Homo sapiens: one gene and its partner. The protein of the gene in region 1 interacts with the protein of each later gene in a pairwise test. Each region holds a gene or a part of one and is shown on either strand. Other genes may lie near its edges. The genes, in order: CFHR5 and PANX1.

What was found.
Region 2: the proteins of CFHR5 (region 1) and PANX1 interact in binary tests that used the Homo sapiens proteins (3 or more experiments, as listed by UniProt).

Annotation. Positions count from the first base shown.
Region 1 is NC_000001.11:196,971,388-196,982,494, forward strand, and holds the start of CFHR5 (complement factor H-related protein 5 precursor), read left to right. Parts: upstream 1-6,168; 5' UTR 6,169-6,277; coding exon 6,278-6,335; intron 6,336-11,107. UniProt on the Homo sapiens protein: Involved in complement regulation. The dimerized forms have avidity for tissue-bound complement fragments and efficiently compete with the physiological complement inhibitor CFH.
Region 2 is NC_000011.10:94,172,570-94,183,314, forward strand, and holds the end of PANX1 (pannexin-1), read left to right. Parts: intron 1-1,744; exon of another isoform or gene 1,745-1,848; intron 1,849-3,177; exon of another isoform or gene 3,178-3,319; intron 3,320-5,799; coding exon 5,800-6,023; intron 6,024-7,032; coding exon 7,033-7,688; intron 7,689-8,220; coding exon 8,221-8,300; 3' UTR 8,301-9,399; downstream 9,400-10,745. UniProt on the Homo sapiens protein: Ion channel involved in a variety of physiological functions such as blood pressure regulation, apoptotic cell clearance and oogenesis.

The DNA of each region.
Region 1 (11,107 bases):
TGGGAGAAAAAACAAATAAATATAATATTTCTATTCATAGAAATATTTGTATTATTTCTAAAATGGACAAAAGCCTTGATAGTTGATACCTATTTTCTAATATGTATTTTTGTCAATATGAAAAGAAGTATTCCCTAGGAAAATCAAGGAAGAATTAAATAGAGAGCAATACCATGTTCTTGGGCTAGAATACTCAACAGGATAAATAAATAAATTTTTCTCAAATTGTACTATAGGCTTAACATAATTACTTATTAAAATTTCAACAGAATTCTTTGTAAATATAGATCATTCCATACTAAATTTATATTAAAATGCACAGGAGTTAGAATGGCTGAAACATTTTTTTAAAATAATAAAGTTGAAAGGATCACAAAAATCAAATTTGAGGCCTCAAAATATAGCTACCATATTAGAAACAATATAGTATTGATGGAGGGATAGACATAAATCAATAGAACAGATACAGAATCCAGAAATAGACCCACACAAATATGCTCAAGTAACTTTTAACAAAGATGCACAAATAATTCAATACAGAAAAGATCCTTTTTTTTTTTTTAGTTCAGGGCTACCTGTGCAGGTTTGTTACATAGGTAAACTTGTTTCATGGGAGTTAGTTTTACAGAGTATTCTGTCACCCAGGTATTCAGCCTGGTAGCCATTAGTTATTTTTCCTATTCCTTTCCCTCTTCCCACCCTTCACCGTCCATTAGGCCCCAGTGTGTGTTGTTCCCCTCTATGTGTTCATGTTTTCTCATGATTGAGCTCATACTTAGAAGTGAGAATGTGTGGCATGTGGTTGAGAAAAGTTTCTTTTCAACAAATTGTGTTGGGGACTAGCACTTTCTTAGCCAAAAAATTAATTTTGATTTAATCTCACATATTTTACAAAACCTAACTCCAAATGGTTCCTATATCTAAATGCATAATGTAAAACAATCAAACTTGTAGAGGAAGAGAAAATCTTTGTGATCTGGGGTTTGATGGAATTGTTCTTAAACAGGACACCTAAAGGATGACCCATAAAAGAGTGAAATAATAATAATACTTTATCAACATTAAACACTTTTTATCCATGAAAGACATTCTATGAGAGTGAAAAGATAAGCTACTTATTAGCAAAAAATATTTGCAAATAACGTATCTGACAGAGGACTTATACATGGAATATATAAAGAATGCTCTAAACACAGGTAAAACAATCCAATCAATAAAGGTGCCAAAGCCTTGAACAGATCTAACAAAAAAGATATTCAGATGGAAAATAAACATGTGAAAAGTTATTCAATGTCATTAACCATTAGGGAATACACATTAAAACCACAATGAGATTTACTATGTATCTAATAAAATGCTTTAAAAAAATTAAATGAAACACATTGGTAATAGTAAGTGCAAGTGAAAATGCAATACAATGGATCTCTCATACATTGCTTGTGGAAATGTAAAATGTCATAGCCACTATGGAAAACAGACAATTTCTTATAGAGTTCAATAGCACTTTTCATAAAACCCAGTAATCTCACCCCTGACTGTTTACCATAGGGCAGGAGATGGCAAACTATATCTTAGGAACTAGCTATCTATTTTCTTAATAAAGATGTATTGGATGTGAGCCACACCTTTTTATTTATGTATTGTCTATCATTATTTTGGCTCTATAACTACAAAGTTAGGTAGTTGTGGCAGAGGCCATATGGTTCACAACCTTAAAATACTAAACATATGACCCTTCGAGAACAAGTTTGCTGTTCAAGTAAAACATTGCACAAAATTGTCCATCATAGCTTTATGTGTAATAGCCAAAAAGTAGAAGCAACTCAAATGTCCTCAGATGAGCGAAAGAATAAACAAACATGTTACATCCATACAATGGAGTACTTCACAGCAATTAAAAGAAATGAATTACTTATAATACAACAGCTTGGCTACATTTCAAGGACATTACCCTGTGTGAAAAATATCCAAATCAAAAAGTTGACTTACTGTATAATCCAATTTATATAACACTCAAAATGACTAAATTACAGTTATGTAGAACATACTAGTGATGACTAGCAATGAGGGGTGGGGGAATGTGGGGACCATAAAAGGACAGCACACGGGAGTTTTCTGGAGGTGATAGAATAGTTCTGTATACGACTGAGTAGTTCTACATATGACTGATTGTGGTGATGGTTACATGAGTGCATACATGTTGCAAAATTAATATACCACACAAACACAAACGCAAGTTCATGGGAGAGACCATGAAATTCAGTAAGGTTGGTAGCTGAGTTAGTAGTAGAGCACTAATGTCAATTTCCTGGTCTCAATTATTGTACTATAGATATAAGAGATGCAGGAAGTTATAGTTATTGGAGGAAACTGGGTAAAGGGTACATGGGCATTCTCTGTACTATTTTTATGACTTATTATATGAATCTAAGATTATTTCAAAACAAAAATTATTTGGATTATATAGGCTGGGATGTTTTACTTTTATAGCACTTTTGGGGAAGAGAATTTTCAATATTCAAGAGTTATAACCAATTTCAGCAATTTTTCTTTGAGATACTTAAATCTATCTCAAATTTTATCAGTAATAACTTCTACAAGCCAGTTTCATATGTATTTGAATGCTATAATTTGCCTTTTAACCCTTTCATATTTTTTGTAACAACAAACAGTTTCAGACTTAATTTACTTTCCCTGCACTAAACCTGGAATCCACAAAAAAAAGAGGTCCCAGTTTCCTAGATTTATAATGCTGTGTAAGAAACTTATTGGCATAAAACAGCAATCATTTTATTATACTTAAAGATACTGTTAGGAATTGACGCAGGGCACTGAGGTGATGACTTATAACTGTTCCACAATATTTGAGCCTCAGGTGAAAAGATTTAAATGGGTTAGGACTCAAATAACTGAGATTTGGAATCTGCAAATGTCACTCACCTGTATGACACCTGGGCTATTGCCTGGGCCAACTGGGACTATCAACCAGAAGATTTACATATGGCTTCTGCATACAGATTGAACTTCTTGCCAAATGGCAAAAGGCTTCCAAGATAGTGTCAGAGAGATAGTCTTCCAAAATATAAACCCATAACTCTCTAATATCTAGCAGAGTCACTACCACTGTATTGTATCAACAAAAGCATGCCACTAAAAAGTACAGATTTTCAAAATGAGGGAAATGTGATTCCAAATCTTGATAGGATCATGGCAAAATCACATGGCAGAAGAACAAGTGAGATGAGACACAGTGGAGTGAGCATCTTTCAAAATAAAATTGGCCACAAAATTGAAGACAAAGTTATTTTCTAAACTGCCCTTTTATTTCTTATCAAGTATAGTTTCCTTCTCCTTTTATTTGTTGCTAATGTTTGCAGGAGGGCATAATCTCCTGAAATTACTCAGAACAAGAAACAAACAAAAAAGGGCAATCTAAGTTTCTGAATTAGGAGAAATATTCAGCAAATAAAAAGGAGAATAATTGTTGAGTACTGGGCTTCAAAAAAAATAGACAAGAGAAGATAGTGTTAATTCAACTAAAAATCGGCACTAGCTCTGTGAAAATTAACTCTGTGCTTACAAATAAATAACATCCCCTGGATTCAGACAAACCAATGTTTAAAGGTCACAGAGATTAGAAGAAGCCAACAAAAGACTGAGATGGTGAAGCCTTTGAGACAGAAGAGAAACCAGGAGAATGTGGTGTTCCATAGACCATGTGAAGCAGGTATTTCCAAATGGAAGGGGAAAGTCATGAAATTTTTCTGAGTATTCAGTTTTGACCAATGGATTTGATTAGATTGAAGAAGGCATTGGTGACTGTTACAAGAGGGGTTTAAGCGTAGTGTTGGGAATGAAAAAATGAATTAAAGTAGAGATTGTAGATAACATTGGAGTCATCGTATTATAAAATGAGAAGTGAATTAGATTACTAGAAAGAGATTTGGGTTCTATGAACAATTTTTGAGCTTTTGTTGTTGCTCTTCATGATGAAAGATGTTTGGTATGTTTGCATATTGGTGGAAATAATTTGGAAAATGGAGAAATTAATGATACAGGTGAGAAGGAATAATTGAAAGAGCAAAATCCTTGCACAGAAAAGATGGGATCAAATCTGGTAGAGACCATAACAAGATAGGAGTAAAGATCAACATCCAGTGAAGCAAGAGACAATGCAGAAAAGGATGCGTGTGAACAGCAGGTAGTTTTCTTCTGATTGATTCTATATCTAGATGAAAAAATAAATGAAGTCATTAGCAAAGCACAAAGTGAGGATTGGTGGTTAAGGAGGGAGATAATGAAAACAGGAGAGGGGAAAAGCAGTGTGGAAATTATTTAGGACCGTGTTCATTAATTTAAAGCAAGGCAAGTCAGCACAGTTGCCTTTGTTTTTCTTGTAGACACACTCTGCTGCTTCAATTCAGGCACAGGGCAGGTAGAGAATTTATTTGCAAAGGATTGAGGTTTTCTAAGACTTGGATTACAGATAGAAAGGAACGAATGGGCAGGAGAGTGTGTGCAAGGGACTGACTGACAGTGATGAGCCATGGAATCTAATTTAGATGTGGTGGGAAGAGAGAAAATGAAGGGAAGAGAATAGTGAAAAAGTGTCAGGGTCATTGAATGTTTGGAACAAATTTAGTAGAGTAAGTGAGCTAAAAAGATTGTTGAAATGGTCTAGAGTGTGATGCTTAATATTTAGATACTTTAGGTAGTGTAGTAATTGGAAATGACAAGGTTTAGATAGACTAGAATCAATAGTGGAGACTACTAATAGCTCACAGGGACTTCTCTGGTTTCTTGATTGGACATAGCTATGTGCATTCCCATTGACTTCTGAACCACCATAAGTAAGTTTCCTCTTAGTGAGATCATTAGGCTGTTTCTGTAAATTTCCCCATTAAATGTTAAATTTCTCTCAGGCTGGGCACTTTGTTGCTTGCTTCAGCTAGTATCCTCTAGTCTTCTCTGATTGTTTCCCACTGTAATCTCTTTGTATTCAATAGGATCCTCGGGCATGGACCTTTCCAAGCTATAAAGTCACTCTTCTCCAGCAGGGGAGCAGAGCTTCCAGTCCACATAGCCTGCCTGCCCATCCAGGGTTCAACTTCTGAGCCACGGAATTGGGCTGCGAGACAGAGGTGGATGAAAGCATCCGCTCTCTTTTACTGAATTTTATGGAGACTTTCTGGAAAAAATATTTCCCAACATTATGCTGTTTGGCCAATTTCCAGAGACAACCAATGGTTACTTTTAAATTTTTATCCAGTTTTATTGCTGCCTTTTGGTTGGGAGTGAATATACCAAGACCCTCACATAGCCATTCTCGAAGTCCCACCTGAACAAAATGATTTTGAATTATAATTCTGTTCTTCAAACATTTCAGGAAACGTTACTTGGCAAAAATTATTCTTTTTTTTTTTTTTTTTTTTTTTGAGACAGAGTCTCGCTCTGTCGCCCAGGCTGGAGTGCAGTGGCGCGATCTCCACTCACGGCAAGCTCTGCCTCCCGGTTTTACGCCATTCTCCTGCCTCAGCCTCCCGAGTAGCTGGGACTACAGGCGCCCGCCACCACGCCTGGCTAAATTTTTTTTGTATTTTTCAGTAGAGACGGGTTTCACCGTGTTAGCCAGGATGGTCTCGATCTCCTGACCTTGTGATCCACCCGCCTCGGCCTCCCAAAGTGCTGGGATTACAGGCTTGAGCCATTGCGCCCGGCCAGCAAAAATAATTCTTGATTAGACCTTTTATAGTTTATGAAATATTAAAACTGTTAAGAAGGTACCTAATTCTTAGTGCCAGTTTTAAAAGGGAATTTACAACTACAAAAGTGATATTGTTGTATTAAGATGAGGACTGATGACTTGCACTTGCTTGCCTTTTGAAACAGCTGAACCCTTGGCTAGAAAAAAAAAAAAAACCCAGGGGGCCGGCGGTGGGGAGCTTCCTCTCTCCTCTAAACAGTCCATTTCTGATTGTTCCAAACTCAGAGACTCGGTGACTACAACAAGGAAATTGAACAGCAGTTATTTTGCTTAAATAAATATTACATAACGAGCTGAGAATATTATTGTGAAGACACTGATTAGATACTATTTGCTTATTTCACACAACCCTCCATGAACTTTGATGTTTTCCACAAAGGGCTTTACTAAACTAGCTTCCCCTTAGTACATTGAAATTCAAAGTCATGCTTGTAACTGTTAATGAAAGCAGATTTAAAGCAACACCACCATCACTGGAGTATTTTTAGTTATATACGATTGAGACTACCAAGCATGTTGCTCTTATTCAGTGTAATCCTAATCTCATGGGTATCCACTGTTGGGGGAGAAGGTAAGTTGAAAACAGATCCGAATATTTTAGTTCCTTTTCAAATGTATTTATTGATTGTGTGTGTGTATGCATACAAATATTTTTAAATGAATAAATAGCTGAGGATAATTTGAAGGGGTATCACAATATTCATCTATTTTCTGGAAATATTTTCCAACATGCAATTAGCAGGAAAATTGAATGAAATTAATTCTCTCCGTTCTCTAGTTTGCTAAGGGTAAATGGTCACCAAATAGATAATGTAAAGAGAAATCAAAGGAGAGAAAATCTGCTATAATAAAGATGACAAGGTGAAATATTAGTGTAATTCTGCATAAACTCTGCAATGCCACTGACTAGAAAAATCAACCCCAAAAGATTTGGCCACCTTCATTATGTTTTGAGAATTTTATTTTCATAGATTTGATAATTTACATTTTAAATGTTATTAAAATGAAGGAATTCTCATTTCAGCCTAATTATCATTCAACAGGGAAATATATTTTAATGAAACAATAGAAAATATTATTTTTATATATAAACCAGTGAACTGCCAAAAAATTGTTTCTTCTGAGCTCTTCCACAAATTTCAAAAGTGAAATAATATATCACTTCTTTATTAATACTATAAACTGATTCTTATAACATTATAAACTATCCCATTTTATTTCATGTGGAAATTAAAGCCACTATATCAAAAGGATTGCAAACAAAATCTCTAACAAGGTCTAGGATACTGATTAAACTATGTGTGTACGTGAAGTTTCAATCATTGTGCTATATACTCTTTGATTTCCAGAAAGTTTTTATTTTACTGCTTTACTGCTTTCTAATGTTTACAGATCTTTAAATTTTTTGAACACTTTCTTCTCAGTCCTGACATAAGAGAAAAATATGAACCATAAAATGCTTTCTTTTTAAGATATGCCCTTACAAATGTTGCAAAACATTATTTCTATGGGCCTAAAATTCATTTTATTTTGTTTTCACTTTTAGTACTGAGCTATAATCACAAGAGTGCGATTGCATGAGTGTATTTGATTTTTCTTAAGTCTGTGTTTATGATATTTATTAAGTGGCTTAAACATCTGTTACAAATGGCATTACACAAGGATTTCTAAAGGGGGGTGGAAGCAGAGGAAGATAAGTGAAAATTATGAGGATAATATGTAGAATTTTGACAATTCCTAACCCCACAAAACTTTCAAGCTTCAGTCCAGTCCCAGGATAAACTTTAGTGAAATTCTATTAAAAGTTGTCTAGGTGTTAAATGACCTGTAAGTGTGCATTACACTTTTGTTTTGGTGTCTATTTAGAAACTGGCCAAACAGCAGAAATAACAGACGAAAGCAACACTTTTGTACAAATAGAAAACTGCATGCTTCCAGTAGCAAAACATGAATCAAGCAATATATTGTGCTTCATGCTGTAGCAAAGAAGCTGGAAAGAATATGACAACGCCACCCACCCCTCACTACTACTTAGAGTGTCCTAAAAGAAAAGCAAAATGTAAATAGGCAAATAAATTGCAAGGTTTTATATATAGGTAATTGTCTGTGTGTGTGTGTGTGTGTGTGTGTGTGTGTACACTCATACATCACTTAATGATAGGAAAACGTTCTGAGAAGTGTGTCTATAGGCAATTTCGTCCTCCTGCAAACATCATAGAGTGTACTTACACAAACCTAGATTGTATAGCCTACTACCTAACTAAGCTATACGGCCTGTCACTCCTAGACTGCAAACCTGTACAGCATGTTACTGTACTGAATACTGTGGGCAACTGTAGCACAAATGTAAGAATGTGTTTACCTAAACATATAAAAGGTACAATAAAAATACAATATAAAATATTAAGAATGGCAGACTTGTATAGGGCTCTTACCGTCAATAGGGTTTGCAGGACTGAAAGTTGTTCTGGGTAAGTCACTGAGTGAGTGGTGTGCAAATATGAAGGCTTAGCACATTACCATACACTACTGTAAACTTCATGAACACTGAATACTTGAGCTAGGTAAATTTATTTTATTTATATATTTATTTCAATATTTTGGGGGGAGCAGGTGGTTTTTGGTTACATGGATAAGTTCTTTAGTGCTAATTACTGAGCTTCTGGTGCACCCAGGATAGACTAAATTTATTTTTAAAACTTTTCTTCAATAATAAATTAATTTATGATAAGCTTTCTACTTTATCAACTGAAAATCTTTTAACTTGTAACTCTTTTGTTTTAGCTTAAAACACACCTTGTATAGATGTACAAAATATTTTTTCTTTCTATCCTTATTCTGTAAGATTTTTATCTTTTAAATTATTTATTTATTTACCTTCTACACCTTTTTGTTAAAAGCAGACACAAACACACACATTAACCTCGGCCTACGGAGGGTCAGGATCATCAGTATCACTGTCTTCCTCCTCACTCTTGTTCCACTAGAAGGTCTTTAGGGCAGTAACATGCATGGAGCTGTCCTCTCCTATGATAACAAAGCCTTCTTCTGGAATAGTTCCTGAAGGACCCGCCTGAGGATGTTTTACAGTTATTTTTTTTTAATAAGTAGAAGAAGTGAACTATAAAATAATGATAACAACTATAGTACATTAAATACATTAACCAGTACCATGGTCATTTATTATCATTATCAAGTATTGTGTACTATACATAATTGTGTGTGCTATTGTTTATATGACTGGCAATGCTGTAAGTTTGTTTATACCAGCACTGCCACAAACATGTGAGTAATACATTGGATTATGATGTTGTGGTGGTCATCAGTTGATAGGAATTTTTCAGCTACATTATAATCTTATGGGACCACTGTGATATAAGTGATCAGTCATTGACCAAAACGTCATTATGTGGTAAATGACTGTATGTCTGTATATATACGTGTGTGTGTGTGTGTGTGTGTGTGTGTGTGTGTGTGTATCCCAGAAGAAATATATTCACAGTATTCTATCAGAATGTCGAGACAAGGAAAATTATTTTCTGCTTTTGGAGTGGGTTGTTGTGTAACGGCAGGCTTGCCAAAGGACGATAACACTCCTAGCACCATTGCGGATGTGCACAATGGTTATACGATGAATGTTGTAGAGCAAGTTCTAAAGGATAGGTAGAATACAACTGGATGGTGAGAACTAAGTTATTCTGGATAGCGAAGAATATGTAAGTACATATGCATGAAAATCAAGTACTATAATTTTGCAATTTTCAAAAAGTAAATGATATTTAAAAGGAGTTATGATAGGTTAATACTATCAAGACACGAGGGAGTCTTTCCCTCAGTATCTTCTCCAAAACTATCTAATGTCAATTTTTAAACAGTTAGGTAATAAATTTAAGGTTTCACAAGGTTAAATACCACAAGAATTATTTCAAATATTGTGCAACATTAAATATTACTTCTAGGTAGTTAAAAAAGAGAAATTTCCCTTGATTTGTCAGCTGAATTTCTGCATGCTTTTTCTAAATAAGGTGAAAAACAAAACAATTTCTTATGCAGCAATGCTATATTCAGGAAATATCTTGAGCTAAAAAATGAGCACACTATATTGAGGAAATATCTCGAGCTAAAACAGCATTCAAAGATAAAGTACATCAAATCCATAGAATGTACAATATCAAGAGTAAACCCTAATGTAAACTATGGGCTTTAATGACAATAATACTGATAGTGAAGGGGGCTATTCATGTGGCAGGGAAGAGGAAGTGGTATATAGGAAATCTCTGTACCTTCCACTCAATTTTACAGTAAAAAAACTGTAAATAAAAAATTAAGTCTAATAAAAAATATGTGTATATATAAATATATATATACACAAGAAAAAATAGAGTCAAAACATGAATATTTCACCCATTTTCTACATTGTTTTACCATATCTTGCACCATAGTGCATATGGATGTATGTGTGAGTGTCTATATAAATATATCCAGTAGTATCCTCAGTATCATTAGTATCCTTAAGGAATTGTTCCAGGACTCTTTTCACCCCCAGCAGATACCAAAATCCACAGATGCTCAAGTCTCTAAGAGAGAATGGCGTAGTATTTGCATATAACATATGCACATCCTCTCATATAATTTAAATCATCTCTAGATTATTTATAATATCTAACATAATGTAAATACTATATAAATAATTGTTATATTGTATTTTTAATTGCATTGTTTTTATTGTTTTATTATCTTTTTATTGTTTTTTCTTTTTCAGATATTTTGGACTTGCAGTATAATAAACATTTATGTATACAGCATTTACCAGAATTTAGCTCTAATTTTATCTCGGTTGAGTTGTTCTTAGTGATTTTCTTATACTCTTTAAATTATTTCCACTGAAACCACATAAACTTTGTAACCAGAAAGTAATCAGAATATTAATAAACAAAAAATCAAATTACCTACCCAACATTTTTACTGCACCAGAAAAAAAAATAGGACAGATTTTTCTGGTGGAAATACCTATGACAGTTGATGAGAATAGAAAAAGAAATAAATCTGAGAGCTGAGAACAATCCTATCACTCCTCTACTGTACACTACATAGACCAGGGAGATTTGCTACTCTTACAGTCTGCCTTCATTCTTAAATTGTTGTGTGAGGATATTGTTCTTGAAGACATTGCAGAAGAGTTCATATTTCATATCATTCCAAAATATAAATTTTATATTCATTAACAATGACCTCGTCGGTCCGGCATGGTGGTTCATGCCTGTAATCCCGGCAGTTTGGGAGGCCGAGGCGCATGGATCACCTGAGGTCAGGAGTTTGACACCAGTCTGGCCAATATGGTGA
Region 2 (10,745 bases), on another chromosome or scaffold:
GCCCCATTTGTTCACACATTATCTGTGGCTGCTTTTGCACTATAATGGCAGAGTTGAGCAGCTGCAACAGAGACCATGTAGCTCTCAAACCTGTAATATTTACTCTCTGGCCCTTTACAAGAAAACCCTATGGACCCTTAATCTGGAATACTCAAGCTCTCCCAGATGATCACAAACTGTATTGAAAGGGAGCTCCTTGCCTCATAGGACAATTCATTGCATTTCATAGATCCGTGGGAAGGCTGCTCCTTGTCACTTGGTTCTACTTATCTTGGTAGGCATCTTTTCCTCCTTCTGTGAACAGATACTTTGCTCGCTGTCTTCTCCAGGGCTCTCCCCATGATGGGTTCCCTCCAGCTGCACTCCAGAATGTCACCCAGTGCAAACCACAGCACCTTTGGTGCTGAATAGAAGCCATGCCATCTGTATTTTCTGCCTTCTGTAAGCTTCTCAGGGAGTGCACATTAGCTTTCTGGGGTAGCTGTTCACTCTTGACTCCCGCTGTCTAGGATTGTCTGTAAGTGCGGTATTACCTGAACAGCATATAGCCAGAACAGACATCCTTCATGCATCTTTTTACTCCACTTCCCCAGTGCAGGATGTTCTTGGTTTACCTACTTCCTACTTTCTGACTGCTTTTCTCCATTTCTTCCAAGATTCTCTTTTTGCCTGACCCTTAAATGTTATAGGGTCTCAGGCCTGTTCGTGGTCTTCTGGTCTTCTCCTTCTGCCCATTCTCCTTGGATGATCTTAACCATACAGTTGGCTTTGACCACATATGTGCTGCCAAATCCTGAATTGTACAGCTAGATTCTTTTCCTTTATTTTCAGTTATCTACTACAGACCAGGGCGTTTTGACTGCAGGTATCTCATGTTCAAAATTTCTCATCTTCTCAGGTCTGCCTCCCACCTCACTCCCGTCTGCTCTGAATCTGGGACTCTTCATTTATTTCACCTGAAGGTTCCACCCCGTCATGCCCTTGCATGAGCTACACACCCGGCGTGATCCTCAGTTCTTCTCCTTTTCCGTCCCCCTCTTCTGTGTGGACACTGAAGTGTATGTCTCCCCCATCTGTTGCTCTCAGATCTGTCTTCTCTTCCTGCCTCTCTGCCACAGTGACCTCCTGCCTGGTCTCTCTCCTTCCCATGTGTTTCTTCTTTGCCTCTGTAGTGGTTTTCTGGAATATATTTGATTTTGCCCTCTACCAGTGGTACCCCATTGTGTATGGTGTGGGAATTTGTGGCCCTCTTAATTCAGTCTCTGCTTACACTTTTTGTGAGTTTCCTAGATCTGCTATAACAAATTACAACAGAAATGTATTTCCTCCTAGTTTTGGAGGCCAGAAGTCCACAATCAAGGTGTTGCCAGAATTGGCTCCTTTTGGTGCTTTCAGGGAGAGTCTGTGATGTGCTTTCTTCTAGTTCCTGGTGGCTGCTGGCAGTCCTCTGTGTTCCTAGGGTGGTAGATGCATCACTCCAGTCTCTACCTCTGTCATCACAGGCTTCTTCCTGTGTGTCTCTGTGTCTTCATTTGGCCTTCTGATAAGGACACAAGTCATTGGATTAGGACCCACCCTAATTTATCATGACCTTATCTTAATTTAACTAATTATATTTGCAAAGACCTATTTCCAAACAGTATCACACTCTGAGGTTCCAGGTGGTCATTAGTTAGGGTTGGGGGGCAGTATTCAAGCCAGCACACCCTTCCAGCCTCTGCTCTGTCTACTTCCTCACTCACAGGCTTGTTCATTTACCTTGGTGCTCTGGATGAGTGAGAATTCAACAGACAAACACGGAGGAAAGGATTCCAAGCAGAGGAAAGAGGATTCCAAAGGGCCACAGAGGTGACATTTGTGCTGAGTCTTAACATAAGGCTTTGTTTTATTTTATTGCCGCACTGTACTTTAAGACATAGTTCAGGTGTTACCTCTTTTATGAAGCTTCCCTGACCACCTCCCCAGGGACTTTTCTGTTCCCTCAGTGCTTAGTACCTACATGTTTTGATGATTTAATTATCAGCTTGTGTTCCCATCTGTCCTGTGTAATCTTGGGGCAGACTCTGTGCCTAGTCTGTGGGGGCCGTGCATCCAGCCCACTGCCTAGCACATAGCAGGTCCCCAGGAGATGTTTTTGAGTGAATTTACCCATCTGCACTTAATCCCCTAAGATGAGGTCACATGCATTTTAGGGGAGGAGTTGTTCAGTCCGAATTGGATGGTTCTTTGCCTTCGATGAGGTAGAGAGGATTTGAATATGGAGGGAAGTTGTACTGCTCACCCTCTAGGTTCCTTCCATCTGGAGGTTTCTGTTGTTTTAACTATAACCCATTCCAGAAACAGCACACATTTTTAAGGCAGATAGACTGAAAATTGTAGTTGGACAGCTGCTTGGTCCCACAATGATTTGAGAAGTTTCCCTATTCTTGGAAGAGCTCAATACTCACTCGAACATCATGCAGAATAGTGCCATCATGGCTTCAAGAGATGCTGAGCATCCCAGGCCTAATGTGGAGTTGACACAGCTTATGAACAAAGCTGTTTCCATCTGCAGATGCACCCTCAAAGCCCTGCAGCTTTTCCATATTTCTTATTTGAAATTAAAGACTGTAATTTTGTGTTATTTTGGATTCTTATTTCCTGTTTTACTACATTTTTATAGAATCACTGAAAGTTGCCTTTTTATTTTGGTGGGAAAAAAATAAAAAGAGGTTTTAGTGTGGAGAAAACCAAGAGATGTGGCATTAAATGATGTTATTATAGTGGTGATCAAGGTACAAGGCTATTTTAGGGAAATTTACACCCTATATGTAATTTGTTTTTCTAATTACAATGAGCTGTGCTGAACTATTCATTGTACCACTTATTGTACCAAATTATTGTACCACTTGGGCATGTTTAAAAATACCACAGACTGTAAATAGTCACTTTTTAATTCAAGGGAACAGTTCGAAGTGAAATGCCATTATTCAAATAGCTTTGAAACAAAAGTGACTTATACAGATGTTTCACAAGCCCATGTTAGAAAAAGTTTTCTCCCTGTGGTTCCCAGATAGAATGCCTGGCTTTCGTGGTTATGGAAGCAGCAGAAACTCTGTGTCATGCACTTATGTTTTTAAACTAATGGGCACCCTTCTGATTGGGCAAGAATTAAATGAACATTCCTTCTCCCCACAGCCAGCTATGAATTATGCAGCCAAAATTCAGCTAATCACAGCCTGCTTTGTGTGTCATTGTGTAGCAGCCCTTTGCAAATTGGGTTAATACTTTTGAAACACCTCATCCCGTGCCAGAATGCCAAAGTAAAGCAGCTGTCTTGGTAAGAGGGCTTTGCAAAGTTTTGGGGTCATTTGTGCTTATTTCTGTCTTGCGTCTGGGGCAGAGATTCCTTATGTGGGTCTGTGATAGTGACAGGAGGCCTGCAAACTAGGATAGGAAAATATATGACAGCTTTATTTTTTATTCACTTCCAAATAAAATTTAGCATTAAGAAAGTTTTTATGTAGGCAACAATCCATAGTGATATTAGCAGTACCTGTGAGTTTGTCACCCACAGAAAATCACAGATATCCTGGAATATCGTTTACTCTTCACTACTTCAAAGTTTCAATAGCTGTTAGATCATCTGCTAGATCCTAATTTAAGTATGAATAAAGAATTGGATGCAAAATATTAATATTTTGGTAACTGTATATCAGTGCTCTATTTCCTTTGTGAACCTATATATATATTATTTTATGCATTTAAAAACAAGGAAAGATTGAAGAACTGTCACAAAACCAAGGAGTCTAGGGAGACATGGCAACTAAATGCAGTGAGTACCCTGGATTGGATCTTGGAACAGGAAGAGGACAGTAGGGGAAAAACTACTACTGTACTTTACAAATAAAAGTCTGAAGTTTAGTTTCTGATAATGTGCCGATGTTGGCTTCTTAGTCTTAACAAATATATCACAGAAATATGAGTCATTAGCAATGGGGGAAACTGAGTGAGGGGCTTATGGGAATGCTCTGTACATCTGAAATTACAGTGAGGGCCATGTTGTGGGGGCTGCCGTCCACTCCCAGAAATGTTTTGAGGGGAGGGTTTCATGTCAACTTACGGCCATCATGGCCTCGTCCATTACAACTCTGAGAAATGGTGGAGATAGACCCATCCAAAAGTAAGGAGAAGTTTTCCAGAGGAGTAAAGTAATTGAGAGTGTGTTAGATTGGAAAAAGATGTCTCTGGGGTCAGAGAGGTTGGCAACATAGTCTGACTCTCACTTACCAGCTTTGTGATCTGGGGCCAGAAACTGCTCCCGGCTTTCTCTTCCCATTTGCAGAATGGAGCCATCTATAGAGTCCCTGCCAGGGTTGCTGTGAGGACTGAACATAACGTGTCCACCTAGCTAATCTTTTTGTGGTTACCTGGAGTGTTTGAGTGCCTGTTCTATGCCAGGCCCTTTGCTAAGCATTTTCCATCAATTATCTCCTTTAATCTTCATGACACCTCTATTCCATGACCATTTCATACATAAGGAAACTGAGGGTCAGAGACTTTGAAAACTAACCAGATGGATGGGCTAAATGCTGGGGACAGCGGGAGCCATTGCAGGTACCTGAGCAGGGTGAACTTGGCGGTTCCAAGAGTTAAGCCTCAGTAATGGTGTACAGGAGAGAATAGAGGCAGGGAGAGCCACTTGGTAAGCACAGAGTGAGGGTTCTAATTAGGGAACAGAAAGGAAAAGAAGCAGTTTTGTCCAAGAAGGCAAAGAGCAAACAAAAAGCAATACTCTTATGTCTTATTGCTGATTAGAAGATCACGCAAAAGGATAGTCGAAAGTGACATCAAGGGCCTAGACCAGGGTCAGCAAACTTCTGCAGAGGGCCAGATCATAAAGTTTTTTTGTCATTGCAGATCACATGGTCACTGTCGCAGCTACTTAGTTCTGCAGAGTAGACATGATTGCCCAAGGCCGCAATGCTGAGCTTCAATTCAGATCTGCACTGACTGCAATTTACGGTCTTCCTAAGTCTTCTGCTGAGGCTAAGCCACCTCTGACCAACTGGTGGTCCTGGTTACTGGGGTGCTCCTCACCCTCTCTGACGTGTGAATCCCCTCTTGTTTGGTGTGTGTCTGCACCCTGATGTGGATGCTCTCCTCTTGATTCCCTTGCCCGTTGTGGATGGCCTCTCTGAGCCCAAGTTTATCCAACTATACGATGAGGGTGTTGGACTGCCTTCAAAGTCTGTTCCACATTCATTCTGCATTCTGTGAATTCAACTGCTTATTTCAGCTGTCTTATTGGGATGATTACTGAATCACTGAAGTCGAAGCTTTTCTAATTTGTTTTGGGGGAAGTTACATGTTTCTTTGGCATTTTCCCAGATTCCAGAGTAGGGCAAAAATGGAGCCGTATGCCTTAGTTGCTTCTTAAAACCATAAAAGTTAACAAAAACCCAGCAGAAGCCTTCGTGATAGCTGCAGGTTTCTTAACTGGGATTTTGTTCAGGGAACGGGAGTAATTTTATTTTTTTATTTTCCTTCTGTGATTAGAACGTACACACCATGTGTCACCATGCAGTTGCTGATTACTTCAAATTAATACCTATGGAAGAAAAAAAAATAGGTAGTTACCTGTGACAGGTATTACCTGGACAGGGGAATTTAGCCATAAGAAGTAGTTATTAGGTAATGAGCCCAATTTCCACAATACACATTTGTCTCAAGATGTGAGAAAATGAGAGCATCACTTGGCGCCATAGGTTACTGCATGGGGGGTTTGTTAAGCCCATGATTTGTTCTCTTGTTTTTCAGTTTTTCCCCTACATCCTGCTGCTCTTTGCGATCCTCCTGTACCTGCCCCCGCTGTTCTGGCGTTTCGCAGCTGCTCCTCATATTTGCTCAGACTTGAAGTTTATCATGGAAGAACTTGACAAAGTTTACAACCGTGCAATTAAGGCTGCAAAGAGTGCGCGTGACCTTGACATGAGAGATGGAGCCTGCTCAGTTCCAGGTGTTACCGAGAACTTAGGGCAAAGGTAACTTAGCCCCAGCAGGCAGCTCATCGGGTTTTGTAGGACAAATTCTCTGCCCTTCTACTGCCAGTCTGGGCCCAGAGTTCTCATTGCTAGGAGGCGGGGCAGGAGTGGAAGCAGGGGGACGTCATGCACCTAGTGACAGCCTGTAGTATCCCGGGATGTCCACTCTCCCCAAATCTCACCGCGACCCATCCTACCCATTTGTTTATCCTTCTGTCAAGACTCATTCCCTTGATGAGTGAAACATTACATCTCATTTTAAAAATGCAGTTCTTGTAGGGGTAACAGATTGAGGTGCTATATGAAGCTTGCTTGCTTTGATCTATTTAACTCCTTAATGGAGACGCACAGAGGATTTCAAGGCAGCTGAGCAAGGGATGAGAGAGAAATGGGGAATGAGTAGGTCGTGGCTTGCCTTTTCACAACCTTCTTTTGGTTCTTGTTATTGAATAATTGGAATAATAATAAGAGCCATCATTTTTTGAATATTTAATATATCTCACACACCGTATTGAGTTATTTAAGTACATTATCTCCTTTAACCCTCAGAGCAACATTACTAGTGCATTTGTTAACCTCCTCCTCCACTTTTATTCTGGATAAAAATACTCTTCTGTAGCTGTAAGTGAGAGTCTGGGAACTGAACCATGCCCTTTAGACCCCATAGTTTTTGCCCATACCCCCTGAGTTGTCCCACCCCTTGCCTGTAAGAGGCGTATGCTTACACATATTTAGGATTTACCAGATGCCAGGCATCACTCTAAAAATTTCCAAATATTAACTCATTTAATTAACTAGGCCTTCTGTTAAATATTAAGGGGAAAAGCATTTTATTATTCCTTTTCTTCCTCCTCTTTTAAACGGATTTTATTTTTGACTACTGACGTTGTAGGTAAAGAAGTATGGGTGTTTGAAATTTTTAGTGTGACATTGTTGAATGTGTATCTGCCTTTAATATTTGATGGTCTTGATGAGTGCCTAAGTTATTTTTGTTTCCTTTATTTTTTAGTTTGTGGGAGGTATCTGAAAGCCACTTCAAGTACCCAATTGTGGAGCAGTACTTGAAGACAAAGAAAAATTCTAATAATTTAATCATCAAGTACATTAGCTGCCGCCTGCTGACACTCATCATTATACTGTTAGCGTGTATCTACCTGGGCTATTACTTCAGCCTCTCCTCACTCTCAGACGAGTTTGTGTGCAGCATCAAATCAGGGATCCTGAGAAACGACAGCACCGTGCCCGATCAGTTTCAGTGCAAACTCATTGCCGTGGGCATCTTCCAGTTGCTCAGTGTCATTAACCTTGTGGTTTATGTCCTGCTGGCTCCCGTGGTTGTCTACACGCTGTTTGTTCCATTCCGACAGAAGACAGATGTTCTCAAAGTGTACGAAATCCTCCCCACTTTTGATGTTCTGCATTTCAAATCTGAAGGGTACAACGATTTGAGCCTCTACAATCTCTTCTTGGAGGAAAATATAAGTGAGGTCAAGTCATACAAGTGTCTTAAGGTACTGGAGAATATTAAGAGCAGTGGTCAGGGGATCGACCCAATGCTACTCCTGACAAACCTTGGCATGATCAAGATGGATGTTGTTGATGGCAAAACTCCCATGTCTGCAGAGATGAGAGAGGAGCAGGGGAACCAGACGGCAGAGCTCCAAGGTAGGGTTTGCTTTTGGCAGAGGCTACGGGAGTCTACCGAGAGCCTTTGCAGCAGCCTTGTGGGAATATTGACAGTCTTTACCCTGCCCATCATTTAAACCATTTCCAAGCATTAAAAACCTTAATACCAAGGTGCGGGGTAGGGGGAGTGGGAACCCCTCAGTATAAGGAGAGAGAGGAAAAGAATTGGTGCTGCTCTACATTTCCAAAGAAGAATAACTTCTGTGCTTTTTCTGGTTTTTCCCTCTTCTCTGTCTGTCTCACACTCTCTCTTGCTCAGCAATCTTCCTTGTCTTTCTTGCTTATTTTTGTCTTATCTTACTGGCTTTCCTTTCTACCTCTGATCTCCTTCTCTGTTACTCTCTGACTTTCTCTTTCAAAGGGGACTAAAAGTTTATTGATTCTTTTAGTTAGGCCAAGAAGCAAAACATGGTATAGACTGTGAGAGGAATTTTTGGCAGAAGAAAAATTGATTAGTATTGGTAATTCCTGCTATGTTTCTGTCATAAATATTTGTTTTCAATTTTGACAGGTATGAACATAGACAGTGAAACTAAAGCAAATAATGGAGAGAAGAATGCCCGACAGAGACTTCTGGATTCTTCTTGCTGATGATTTTTTTCCTTGAGCTGTAAATCTGTGACTTCTGCGACATGGGATTTAATTTGGCTAAAGCACCCCTGTTGGTTTCACAGCTGGTTTGCAATAAATGGTTCTTGGTGGAGATACTGAGCATGTCTTATTGAGTCCCTAATGGAAATGGTGATCAACAAAAGGTTATGGAAGAATGGTTTATGAACTTCCCATAGGAAGCACCTGAGAGATAGTAAACTGCAGCAAGTAACTATGTGTAAGTCCTCATCAAATGAAAAGCAGAAAGACAAGAACAATTAGTCAAGAGCAGTAGCCCTGTCAGAGCCTCGGAGCAATACCTTTCTGTACCCGTGGTGAGACAAGACCCAGAGCTACTGGAAAACAAGCACTTTGGAAGATTTGTTTTGTTTTCATGGAATAATAATATGTCAGGGTATAATTTAACGTGAGTTTCTTATGTGCCCTTAAAGACTGTTAGACAAGAAAAGCATTCACTGGCTAATAATCCATAGGTCGACCTATGTCCTAAGTTAGGTGTAAGGTCCGATGCCTTGGCCCACACTCGAGCTCTCTTTACATTGTTAGTTGTCAACCTTGGCTGATGGAAATCCCGTAACCACTATTTGTTGCACTGTGCCTTGAAGGGCAGCAGGCCCAAGTGCTGCTCTGACTGAAAACTGAGTTAACAAGATGAAATCTAAAGGATATTCACAGTGACTTCAATTCAGGAAGAATGCTTCCAAAAGAGCCCAGTGGGGAAATCTGACATCACAGAAGACATTAATTCAGTCACTTTCAAAGAGTTTGTCTACAGGCGGTTTCTCTGTTATCAAAGGCATTTGAAATAGGATTTTACTTAAACAATAATGGAACACAGGAGTATTTAAAGTGAAGAACACTTTGCCTGAATGTGATCAGGGCACATAAGTGACATTGGCATGCTTCATATGGCGTGCTTGGAGCCAGAAAAACTTAGCGGTTTATTTTGTTTATATTTAAGCACAGCTTTAAAAAATTCATTATCGTTTATTCAGTGTCCGAATTGAGGCCATTTGGGAAGAAAATTCTAGCACTGGTGGAGAATTATAGAATAAAGATTATAAATGGTTGGATAAGACAAATGTAAGCTTATTTCATAAACATTTAAAGCTGATTCAGAACATGTTAAAAACTGTTCCCAATTCCAACTATGTAAATAGATCCTATGTTCACATTTTACACACACACACAAAAATCTTTAACATCTGTGGAACTTCCCAGTTTTAGTCTTAGAAAGTTAGCATGTTGCATAAGTTCAGTAATCCTCAGGAACCTCCAAGTTTACTTTTAGCTCTTACGGACAGTTGTTTACATAATCTAATTACTGTTTTCTGAAGAACGGAAATTATATAAGCTGCTGTCTGCCTTTTGGAATATTCAGAAAAGCAGATTTTATTTGTACTTCTGTGATGTTTTCTGAAATGGAAAGCTGATGATAAATATCAAAGTAGCAATCAGTGCGTTAAATTATTCTGTTACATGATATTTATTACTGTTGAATTATTCTGTGACTTAGAAATGGCAGTAACCTAAATAATGGAATTTGCAAAATTATTATATTGCCGTATCTGAGATGTTCCATCACAAGTTTCTACACTGGTTTCTTTTGAAAATTTAAAAAGATTTACGAGATACATTTTCTAGGATATGATTTTTTTTTTACAAAAAGCTTCATCTTCTGTAGACTATCCTTAATTTCTATTTTGAAACGGTAAAAATTGATATTTTAGGACACCAGGAAGTCTCCAAGCCATTCCCACTCTCTGAACTCCAGTAGGGTCTGTGATGTCCCAGGCACCAGTACCAAGTTGGATGTGCAGATATGCATAGGCAGGTCCCATCCTTGAGGACTTCAGAGTCCAGTAAAAGGCAGCAGAAACATGGGCTGGTGCCTAAGAGGAGAAAGCGTAGCCACAGTAAAGGCTATGCCAGAAAACTCCTAGCAAATGCTCTGTGTTCTTGGGAGAGGGCACATTGTTTTTGTTTTCTCTCCTATAGTTCCTGTAACTGCTGGTTTTGAGAATATAGTAATCATTTTTCCCAGAGGCAGATGACCACCTTAAGGTTCTTTAGCTGCAAATCCTCTAGGTTGAAGTTTGTGTGAAATAGTCACAGTGATTTTGAATAGTAAGGAATCCAGTTGCCTTTTGAACCTTCCCTCACAGGGATGAGAGAACAAGCCTGTGGAGGTTGTGGAGCTACTGGTAAACAACTGTCAGGGCCCCAGAAGGCTGATGTGGAGGCCTGGGGATACATTTCATCTAATAAAAGTATTACTAGGTATCAGTATCAGTAATAAAAGTATTATAATAAAGTATCAGTAATAAAAGTATTATAATAAAAAGTATTATTAGGACAGGTAAACTCATCCATCTACTGTGAGCTGCTGGCTTGGAGAACGACTTTTGAGGAGCCAGTTTCCTG